Homo sapiens: one gene and its partners. The protein of the gene in region 1 interacts with the protein of each later gene in a biochemical or structural test. Each region holds a gene or a part of one and is shown in the gene's direction. Other genes may lie near its edges. The genes, in order: WWOX, CPSF1 and LATS1.

Evidence for each region.
Region 2: the proteins of WWOX (region 1) and CPSF1 form a complex in vitro, tested with the Homo sapiens proteins (one study listed by BioGRID).
Region 3: the proteins of WWOX (region 1) and LATS1 interact in a test that uses a peptide from one of them, tested with the Homo sapiens proteins (one study listed by BioGRID).

Annotation. Positions count from the first base shown.
Region 1 is NC_000016.10:78,113,008-78,116,657, forward strand, and holds part of WWOX (WW domain-containing oxidoreductase), read left to right. Parts: intron 1-1,968; coding exon 1,969-2,147; intron 2,148-3,650. UniProt on the Homo sapiens protein: Putative oxidoreductase. Acts as a tumor suppressor and plays a role in apoptosis. Required for normal bone development. May function synergistically with p53/TP53 to control genotoxic stress-induced cell death.
Region 2 is NC_000008.11:144,399,289-144,402,938, reverse strand, and holds part of CPSF1 (cleavage and polyadenylation specificity factor subunit 1), read left to right. Parts: exon of another isoform or gene 1-72; intron 73-824; exon of another isoform or gene 825-1,024; intron 1,025-1,265; coding exon 1,266-1,293; intron 1,294-1,375; coding exon 1,376-1,509; intron 1,510-1,647; coding exon 1,648-1,728; intron 1,729-1,863; coding exon 1,864-2,015; intron 2,016-2,121; coding exon 2,122-2,268; intron 2,269-2,445; coding exon 2,446-2,585; intron 2,586-2,593; exon of another isoform or gene 2,594-2,662; coding exon 2,663-2,773; exon of another isoform or gene 2,774-2,853; coding exon 2,854-2,947; intron 2,948-3,070; coding exon 3,071-3,158; intron 3,159-3,228; coding exon 3,229-3,351; intron 3,352-3,435; coding exon 3,436-3,487; intron 3,488-3,565; coding exon 3,566-3,650. UniProt on the Homo sapiens protein: Component of the cleavage and polyadenylation specificity factor (CPSF) complex that plays a key role in pre-mRNA 3'-end formation, recognizing the AAUAAA signal sequence and interacting with poly(A) polymerase and other factors to bring about cleavage and poly(A) addition.
Region 3 is NC_000006.12:149,683,568-149,687,217, reverse strand, and holds part of LATS1 (serine/threonine-protein kinase LATS1), read left to right. Parts: intron 1-2,625; coding exon 2,626-3,650. UniProt on the Homo sapiens protein: Negative regulator of YAP1 in the Hippo signaling pathway that plays a pivotal role in organ size control and tumor suppression by restricting proliferation and promoting apoptosis.

The DNA of each region.
Region 1 (3,650 bases):
ATTTCTTAAATTTTTTATGTAGTCAAATCAATTTTCTCCTGTGCAGTCTTTGCCTTTGCATTCACGCTTGGAAAGTTACTCCCTGAAATGGGTATTAATCAACCAAGAGCAGCAGTTCTCAGGCATGGTTCCTGGACCAGCAGCATTAATATCACCTGGGAATTCAATAAAAATGTACATTCCCAGGCCCCCACCCCAGACCTACTGAATCAGCACTGGGGTGGGGCTTGCAATCTGCGCTCTAATAGTCATCCAGGGGATCCTGATGTTCCCTAGCTTGAGAGCCTCCCGTCTAGAGCAGGGGCTGTCTCCTTTGCCTGTAAAGGGCTAGATAATATGTTTTAGGATTTGCAGGGCATATGGTTTCTGTTGCAATGATTCAACTCTGCCTTTGTAGTGCTAAAGCAGCTATACACAATATACAAGTGATGGGCGTTGTTGTGTTCCAATAAAACTTTATTTACAGAAACAGGCAGTGGGCCAGATTTGGCCAGCTCCTGGTCTAATCTAGAGGAGTAAGCAAGGGCTTTGGGGGGAACCTGGAAATTGGCTCCCCTGGCTAGTTCTCACTTTTCTGAGCCTGTTGCAGTGGGGTGCTGGTAAATGTTTAGCACCAGGTCTTCAGGGGGAAAAAAGCCACTGTTTGTTTCCACAGTATAAATACTTTGGCCATAGCTGATTTCATGCTGCCAAGGTGAAGTGAGGAATTGGGAAGAGATAGTCACGTTTGGCTCTTGTAAGCCAGTTTGAGCCAGTCTAGCATAGAACTGCTCTGTTGTGTGTGTATAATATTGGGGTCACAAATTAAGGTTGTTATAAATAGAATGAGGATGAGGATGGTAATAATTAGAATAAAGGTTGGATTATTACTCTTGAGTCTTGGTACTTATAGGGAGATGAGTATATATTTTAAACTAATTTTACACACACATACTTTTAAAATATGAAATTTCATCTATATTTAGAGGCTTCTTAATAGTTTTTAAGATATTCTGAGGTCTTTATCTCATATCCCAAGAATACATTTAAGATATAAAAAGTAAATTCTATTATAAGGAGTACTCTTTTCATCCATATGTGCCTTTTTTTTTTTTTTTTTTTTAATGGTTACCCAGGGTCTTGGTCTGTCACCCAGGCTAGAGTGCAGTGGCACAATCATGGCTCACTGCAGCTTTGATCTCTTAGGCTCACGTGATCATCCTCCTACCTCAGCCTCCCAAGTAGCTGCGACTACAGGCGTGTGCTATCACACTTGAAATTTTGTTTAGTGTTTGTAGAGATGAGGTCTAACTATGTTGCCCAGGCTGGTCTTGAACTCCTGGGCTCAAGTGGTCCTCTTGCCTTGGCCTCCCAAATTGCCGAGATTACAGGCGTGAGCCACTGTGCCCAGCCTCCAGTATATTTTAATACCATTTCTACAAGATTTAGATCAATTCCAAATCAAAATGAGTGCTCGTAGGAGGTATGAGTGCAGAGTCTTAAAATGAAAATCGTTAGAATTTTGGTAGTTGGCAGGTTTCTTATTTACAACTAAGACTTTATCATTTTGAGTTTTCTACTTCTCTACGTCTTTAGGCCCTTGCACAGGGCTAAGAGATTTAATTGAAATCTACTGAAAAGAGTGGCTGACAGATCTTATAGCTACATTTACATGAATTACATAAAAGCCCAAAACCTTCTCAAGAAGCCTTTTTTGAGATCTAAGGATACATGGCAATAGTTATTGTATGTTACAGCGTATGTTATAGGCAGTTCTGAAGGAAAGGATTCGATGACTATCTTTTTTTGGCACAAATGTGATCCTTCTGGAGGCCAGAAGATAGATTCAGTGGGCCCCAGTTCTTTCAGGTTTAAGGAATAAGCATTTTGGTCTATGAAAAATGGGGTTTTCCTAAAGTATAAGATTGTCTTATATTTATAAATGCCTGTGTTCATTGCTGTGGGTTCACTGCTTTCTCTTTTGGGCAGCCATATAAATAAAAGAACCACCTACTTGGACCCAAGACTGGCGTTTACTGTGGATGATAATCCGACCAAGCCAACCACCCGGCAAAGATACGACGGCAGCACCACTGCCATGGAAATTCTCCAGGGCCGGGATTTCACTGGCAAAGTGGTTGTGGTCACTGGAGCTAATTCAGGAATAGGTAGGCTCTTCACTTAGTTATTTATCTTTGGGACTGCTATAATGAGATCCACTTAGATCTAGCTATAATGGAATTTTGTTTAGTGGTTCTCTGATTTAAACATGACTTTTATCCTTTTCAGATATCGTTTCATTAACATCACTACCTCTTTTTAAATCCTAATGTTGTCATGGAAGCCTGTGTAGGGGCTGACCTTGAAGTCTCTGAAAGCTGAACACTCAGCAAAAGACTGTGGCTATTTTGGTATTCAGGGATGAGAGACAACAGGCTCCGTCTAAGAGTTTTTGACCTGGTCTGCATGGTGTATGGGCATATTCCAATTACCTGGGTTATTCAAACCAAAATTGATTGGTAATAGAATACGGGGAACAACAAGGTATTATGTCTTTGGAACAAAGGATACTACAGGTTTCGACTGGTCACTGAGCATATCATTTTCTTTTGGGCACAGGATCTTATTTCTCTATAAAATTGGAGAATGAGTTCCTGTCTTCACCTCTTAATTGCCAATGTTTACCCACAGGGACTATCATGGGTAGATGGCTCAAGAGGGTATCCTTGCTTCAATATGATGGGCCATTAAGGAGACAGGAGCAAGGCGGGAGCAAACCATAACTCTTCATAGGATTTTATTCTGATTTTGCTTTGATCTATTTACATAAGTATCTGAATCAGTGAGAACCACCTGCTTTGAGTTTAGATATGCATCTTCAGATTTGTCGACATATGAAACGTTGCATTTGGCTGTCTTCTGTCAAGTTCTCTCTGTCCTTTTGGTCCCCCGCAGCCCTCACACGGCCCCCTTGATGCCCTCCTCTACTCATTTGTTTCTCTTTCCTAATTTTGTTTTTATTTTTATTTTTTGTGGGTATATAAAGGTGTCTATATTTATGGGGTTCATGAGATGTTTTGATACAGGGATGCAATGTGAAATAGTCACATCATGGAGAATGGGGTATCCATCCCCTCAAGAATTTATCCTTTGAGTGATAAACAATTCAGTTATACCCTTTTAGATATTTTACAATGTGCAATTAAGTTATTATTAACTATAATCAACTTGTTGTGCTATCAAATAGTAGGTCTTATTCTTTCTTTCTATCTTTTTTGTACCCATTAACCATCTGCACTTCTTTCTTAATTTTGAACAATTCCTTGAAGCTGCAGAAATATTTTCTAGCATGATTAGGGAGGCACAGGAGGTAAAAATACATTGTTCAAGGGTCAATTATTGTGTTGTACAAGGTGTGAAATCTACCAGGTTGCCATCCGAGTGGAGAATTTTTTTACTGTACTTGCCTATGAAGGTAAAGAAGCAAATGGAAATTTTTTTTTAAGAATTGAAAGGATTTTATTTCAAATCAACTCTCATACCTCATCCTGGGCTCCAAATATGTTCAATCCACTTGTCTGAACTTCTGCATTGGAGTAAATTTTATATAATTGTCATTGAAGTCAAAACTGATGGCGTAATATTTAAAACAATGGCTGGATCCCCAATCT
Region 2 (3,650 bases), on another chromosome or scaffold:
GGAATAACTCAACCCAGTTGTGTTACAATACCCCTGCTTGTCACTGGGCTCATCTGCAGGCGTTTTGAGGAGGTTGGTGTCACTTCCTGTCCCACCTGTCTGTGGGCTGTTGGGGTGGCCTGAGCCACCTGCGGTGCCGTCAGCCCCACATGAGTGGGTGTGTGTTTTTTTTTTAAGTGTGTCATTACTTCTGAAACCTTTGGTAGAATTTGCGGGTGAAGCCCTGGAGTTGCCCTTGTCGCTGTGAGATGGGTATTGGTTTGTGGATGCTTCTTCTGTATCTCTTAACCAGCTTCCAAGATGCCCTCCCCATAGCACAAGTCCATCGTGAAAAATGACCTTGAGGTGGCTCACGCCTGTAATCCCAGCACTTTGGGAGGCTAAGGTGGGCGGATCACCTGAGGTCAGGAGTTCGAGACCAGCCTGGCCAACATGGTGAAACCCTGTCTCTACTAAAAATACAAAAATTAGCCGGACATGGTGGCACGCACCTGTAATCCCAGCTACTTGGGAGGCTGAGGCAGAATCACTTGAACCCGGGAGGCAGAGGTTGCAGTGAGCCAAGATCACGCCACTGCACTTCAGCCTGGGTGACAGAGTGAGACTCCGTCTCAAAAACAAAAAACAAAAAACAAAAAAAAACAAAACAAAAACCACTTTTCCCTTGCCTTGAGGCAATGGCATATAAATCTGCTAGCTAGTTAAACTAGCTACCTAGTAGCAAAGAACACACAGCCTCTTATCATTCTGGGAGGGCAGTGAAAAGGGAGGAGATAGAGAGGCAGCCTGGGGGAGCCCGAGGCGTCAGGATAGCGCAGGGCTTCCTCTTCTCTAACAGGCACGCAGATCAGTAGCTACAGATACCCCTTGGCTCTGGCTTCCTGCCCTGTGACATTTGGACCCAGGGGCCGGGGCTGGGCTGCTGTAGGTGTGCAACCAGGCAGGTTTGGGGGTGTGCAGACACAGAGTGCACTCTAACCCTGAGTGCTTGCCGCACAGGGCCTGGCTGCTAGGGAGCCGTGAGGTAGGGGCTTCCTGGGGAGGGGCCTGTGCCAGGGCTGGGCCGTGGGCATGAGAGCGTGAATGGGGGTCGCTGTGGGGGGCTGTGCACAGCTGTCTCCAGAAGCCCTTCTCCCTGCTGCAGAGAGGGTTTGGGCAGAGCTCCCAGGAGGCAGGGGCCAGGCTTGGTGGTCTTTTCTCGTTCCCCGGATGAGGTGAGCTGCCAGATGTGGCCCCTCACTGCCCTGTCTTTCTCTCCCCTCCAGGCTCTGACCAAGAATGACAGGAGCACAGGTGAGTGTGGTGGGGCGGCCTGGGGCTGTGCGGGTGCCAGGCATGGCTGGGCCCTGACCCTGAGCCCTGGTGTCTCCCCTAGAGGGGAAGGCCCACCGGGAGAAGCTCGAGCTTGCTGCCTCCTTCTCCTTCTTTGGCAACGTCATGTCCATGGCCAGCGTGCAGCTGGCAGGAGCCAAGCGGGATGCCCTGCTCCTAAGCTTCAAGGATGCCAAGGTGAGTGGTAGGCTTGGTGGGGTAGGCCTGGCCAAGGCGTGGGAGTGGGTGCCAGGGCCTGGGTACAGCCGTTGGTTGCCGGGGGCGACACTGTCAGGACCGGCAGTCGGCAGCCACGGCTGTGCCCTCTGACCGCAGCTGTCTGTGGTGGAGTACGACCCGGGCACCCATGACCTGAAGACCCTGTCACTGCACTACTTTGAGGAGCCTGAGCTTCGGGTAGGGCCGCGCTCCCGCCCCCGCCCAGGCCCCGCCCAGCCACCCTCCCTCCCCCTGCAGCTGGGTTCTGTGGCCCCAAGTGTTTCCCTCGGGGTCTCCTATGCTGGGCCTGGCTGATGCCCCCTCTGCCCCCAGGACGGGTTTGTGCAGAATGTACACACGCCGCGAGTGCGGGTGGACCCCGACGGGCGCTGTGCAGCCATGCTTGTCTACGGCACGCGGCTGGTGGTCCTGCCCTTCCGCAGGGAGAGCCTGGCTGAGGAGCACGAGGGGCTCGTGGGTGAGGGGTGAGTGCCAGCTGAGGCAGGCTGTGGTGCTGGGGTGGGAGGCGCCAGAGCCCGAGCTCCCCTCCCCGCCTCCCCTCCTCTCCTGCTGAAGCCCCTGGCCCCCCAGGCAGAGGTCCAGCTTCCTGCCCAGCTACATCATCGACGTGCGGGCCCTAGACGAGAAGCTGCTCAACATCATCGACCTGCAGTTCCTGCATGGCTACTACGAGCCTACCCTCCTCATCCTGTTTGAGCCCAACCAGACCTGGCCTGGGTGAGCCCCCTAAGGAGGCCCCTCTGCACTGTGGGCCCCCTAGCTGCCTCTGCCTGGGGTGGGGCCCATGGGGTTTAGGGCGGGGCCTATGGGGTGTGGTGGGGCTTGCTCGGGAGGAGCTGGGCCTGGGTCTCTGCGGGGAGGCAAGGCCCTTGGCTGACCCACTGGCGTCCCCAGGCGCGTGGCCGTGCGGCAGGACACGTGCTCCATTGTGGCCATCTCACTGAACATCACGCAGAAGGTGCACCCCGTCATCTGGTCCCTCACCAGCCTGCCCTTTGACTGCACCCAGGCTCTGGCTGTGCCCAAGCCCATAGGTGTGTGTCCTGGGAGTGGATAGGGGAGTGTGTGGAGAGAGCACTGAGCCTGCCCACCAGCCTGTGTCCACCTCCAGGTGGGGTGGTGGTGTTTGCCGTCAACTCGCTGTTGTACCTGAACCAGAGCGTCCCCCCGTATGGCGTGGCTCTCAACAGCCTCACCACAGGAACCACGGCTTTCCCGCTTCGTGAGTGTGGGGTGGCTGGGGCGGGGGGGGCCCGGGGACGGCTTGGGCCTGCCTAGTCGGCCTGACCACCCACCCCACAGGCACCCAGGAGGGTGTGCGGATCACCCTGGACTGCGCCCAGGCCACCTTCATCTCCTACGACAAGATGGTCATCTCCCTCAAGGGCGGCGAGATGTGAGCCCCTCCCCCGCCCATGAACTCTGCCCACACCGCCCCCCACAAGTCCTGTAGGGTCCCCTGGCCCCCTTCACTCCCCCAGGGTCCCCATCCCCGACTCAGAATTCTCCCTGCCCCCAGCTACGTGCTGACCCTCATCACCGACGGCATGCGCAGTGTCCGAGCGTTCCACTTTGACAAGGCGGCCGCCAGCGTCCTCACCACCAGCGTGAGTTGGGACTAGGGGTTGGGTCTGGGTCCAGACCCGGCCCAGCCATCACACACCTGCCCTCCCTCAGATGGTCACCATGGAGCCCGGGTACCTGTTCCTGGGTTCTCGCCTGGGCAATTCCCTCCTCCTCAAGTACACGGAGAAGCTGCAGGAGCCCCCGGCCAGTGCTGTCCGTGAGGCTGCCGACAAGGTGGGTTTCCTGGGCCCATTGGGCCACCACCCTTCATGTGGGCACTGCTGTGGCATGCCACTCAGTGCCCCTCCTGCCTCACAGGAAGAGCCTCCCTCAAAGAAGAAGCGAGTGGATGCGACGGCCGGCTGGTCAGGTGAGGGCCGGTCCAGGGCTGGTCAGGAGCGGGGCCAGGTGACCCAGGGCTGCGCTCAAGTGGGCTCTCTGTGTGCAGCTGCGGGTAAGTCGGTGCCGCAGGATGAGGTGGACGAGATTGAAGTGTACGGCAGCGAGGCCCAGTCGGGAACACAGCTGGCCAC
Region 3 (3,650 bases), on another chromosome or scaffold:
ACAGGGGGCTGAGGCAGGAGAATCGCCTAAACCCAGGAGGCAGAGGTTTCGCTGAGCCGAGATCATGCCACCGCGCTCCAGCCTGGGCGACAGAGCAAGTCTCTGTCTCAAAAAAAAAAAAATAAAAATCTTGGAGATCTTGGTGAGGTTGCTACTTAATAAAGTTTAAAAACTTTTGCAGTAGGAGTAAACAGAAGAAGTAGTTGTGGTCTGGGAGTATAAGCGTATAAACCTTAAAGTAGTTATTCTGAAACAAGAGCAGATATGAGTAATACCAAAGTTTGAAATACAATCATGAGAATGATACTTGATGTGGAGTGGAAGAGGGGACGTCAAGAAGCTGAGATATGAGGGCAATAGATGGTTTATCCTCGTGGTTATTGAGGTTACAGGATGAAGGCAGGGCTTAGGGTAGACTGAATGCTGAAGCTGTGGCTGAATGAAATAGAGCAAATAGGCAGGAGCTCATTAGGTGAGAGGAATTAGTGTGGCCTCCCACATAGCATGAAGTTCAAAAGAGCTGGCTTTTTAAAAGGAATAATATCAACCTGTAAGAACAAATGTTAGAACCCCATCTTTAGGCCAGGTTATTTTTAAAGGAAACCTTAATTTCAAAGGGCTGAAAGGAAAGTAGTATCAGCAGAAGAAAACCAGCTTCAAGGAGGTGGCAGGAAAGCTTGGAGGAGAGGTTACTGATAAGGCACATTTGCTGGCTGTGGAGCCGAGTGGATCCGGAGGGCATGGTGGAAAGGTTCGGGAAGTGGAAGAACATGGAGAGCTCTGTGGGAGGCGCAGAACAACAGGGGTGACTGTATACTCTAAAAGCTGAATGAGTGACATGGTGTATTTGGCCTCAGCTGGCCTCTGAGGAAAGTGAGAAAGAGCCTGATGGCCAGAGGACTTGTCCAGTTTATCCGGAATGATAATGTTCCCCAAACATTATTTACTCACTTGCTTTTCGTCTGGCTCCTGCTTCGAGAATGTAGACCCAAAATGCTGTCCAGCCTAGATGAAAGGGAGTGTTAAACTGAACATTATGAACATTTACCACATTTTACCACTTTTTTTCTCAGATGTATTGTTAGATATATTTTTGCCCAGGATGATGTTGACCTTTCAAATTTATTAGTATTCTTTTTTGTTTTGTTTTTAATGGTAATGAGTGTTTGTATTTAGATCTCTACTTTTGTCATGCCTGGGAAGACATTCGCAAGAGGTACCCCAATACTATTGAATGGTCTTTTGTTTTTTTCTAGTGCTTACATGATTTCATCTTTAATATTTAAACCTTTAGTCTTTCTAGAATGTATATATGTATTGTCTTTATACCAGTGTATCTTGTATATTTTTCCTAAGTGGCTGGACTATTCTATTTTAAATACTTCTCTTTTTTTGGTATTGTATTTTTTTTTTTGCTTGTTTTATTGATTTGGAAATTCCGTTAAAGACAGTTTCTGTAAAATCTATACTTTATTTAATATTCAGCTAATTATAGCCTACTATCTTTTTCTGTTTTAAAAACCATATTAAAAGGCCAGGTGCAGTGGCTCACACCTGTAATCCCAGCACTTTGGAAGGCTTAGGAGGGCAGATCACTTGAGGTCGGGAGTTTAAGACCAGCCTCGCTAACATGGCGAAACCCCGTCTCTACTAAAAATACAAAAGTTAGCTGGGCGTGGTGGCGTGCGCCTGTAGTCCCAGCTACTCAGGAGGCTGAGGAAGGAGAATTACTTGAACCCGGGAGACGGAGGTTGCAGTGAGTCTGTGCCACTGCACTCCAGCCTGGGTGACAGAGTGAGACTTTGTCTCAATTTAAAAATATAGATATATATTAAAATATATTTAAAATCAGTAGAGCTATGAAAATTACAAATAGATACGCCCTTTGGCCTAATAATGCTACCTCTAATAATTTATCTACAAATATACATGCATATATATGAAATTATATCTCTTCAAAAATATATATATATTTTTTTTGAGATGGAGTCTTGCACTGTCACCCAGGCTGGAGTGCAGTGGCACGATCTCAGTTCACTGCAGCGTTGGCCTTCTTGGTTCATGCAATTCTCCTGCCTCAGCCTCCCGAGTGGCTGGGACTACAGGTGCACACCACCACGCCTGGCTAATTTTTTTGTATTTTTAGTAGAAATGGAGTTTCACCATGTTGGCCAGGCTGGTCTCGAACTCCTGGCCTCAAGTGATCTGCCTACCTCAGCCTCCCAAAGTGCTGGGATTACAGGCGTGAGCCACCACGCCTGGTCAAAAATAAATAAAATTCTAAAAGGTAAAAGGAAACCACTTAGTGAAATTTTATTTTTATAACTCTTTTTTTTCTTTTTTTGCTAAATTGAGCCAAATAACATGTATTATTACCTCACATATCATTTTTTTGTAGTGAGAATACTTCAAATTTACTCTCGGCAATTTTCAGGAGTACAATACGTTGTTATTAACTACAGTCACCATTTTGTACAAGAGATCACTTGAACTTTTTTATATTTTTATAATTCTTGAAAGAGAATTGAGTATCATTTGTAATATCAGAATTGCAAGCTAAGGTTTTCAAAAATTAGAGGTTAAAAACATGATTCTTTTTTCTCTTTATCTCTCTTATAACCATAGGGAATGTGCAGCAATCAGTTAACCGCAAACAGAGCTGGAAAGGTTCTAAAGAATCCTTAGTTCCTCAGAGGCATGGCCCGCCACTAGGAGAAAGTGTGGCCTATCATTCTGAGAGTCCCAACTCACAGACAGATGTAGGAAGACCTTTGTCTGGATCTGGTATATCAGCATTTGTTCAAGCTCACCCTAGCAACGGACAGAGAGTGAACCCCCCACCACCACCTCAAGTAAGGAGTGTTACTCCTCCACCACCTCCAAGAGGCCAGACTCCCCCTCCAAGAGGTACAACTCCACCTCCCCCTTCATGGGAACCAAACTCTCAAACAAAGCGCTATTCTGGAAACATGGAATACGTAATCTCCCGAATCTCTCCTGTCCCACCTGGGGCATGGCAAGAGGGCTATCCTCCACCACCTCTCAACACTTCCCCCATGAATCCTCCTAATCAAGGACAGAGAGGCATTAGTTCTGTTCCTGTTGGCAGACAACCAATCATCATGCAGAGTTCTAGCAAATTTAACTTTCCATCAGGGAGACCTGGAATGCAGAATGGTACTGGACAAACTGATTTCATGATACACCAAAATGTTGTCCCTGCTGGCACTGTGAATCGGCAGCCACCACCTCCATATCCTCTGACAGCAGCTAATGGACAAAGCCCTTCTGCTTTACAAACAGGGGGATCTGCTGCTCCTTCGTCATATACAAATGGAAGTATTCCTCAGTCTATGATGGTGCCAAACAGAAATAGTCATAACATGGAACTATATAACATTAGTGTACCTGGACTGCAAACAAATTGGCCTCAGTCATCTTCTGCTCCAGCCCAGTCATCCCCGAGCAGTGGGCATGAAATCCCTACATGGCAACCTAACATACCAGTGAGGTCAAATTCTTTTAATAACCCATTAGGAAATAGAGCAAGTCACTCTGCTAATTCTCAGCCTTCTGCTACAACAGTCACTGCAATTACACCAGCTCCTATTCAACAGCCTGTGAAAAGTATGCGTGTATTAAAACCAGAG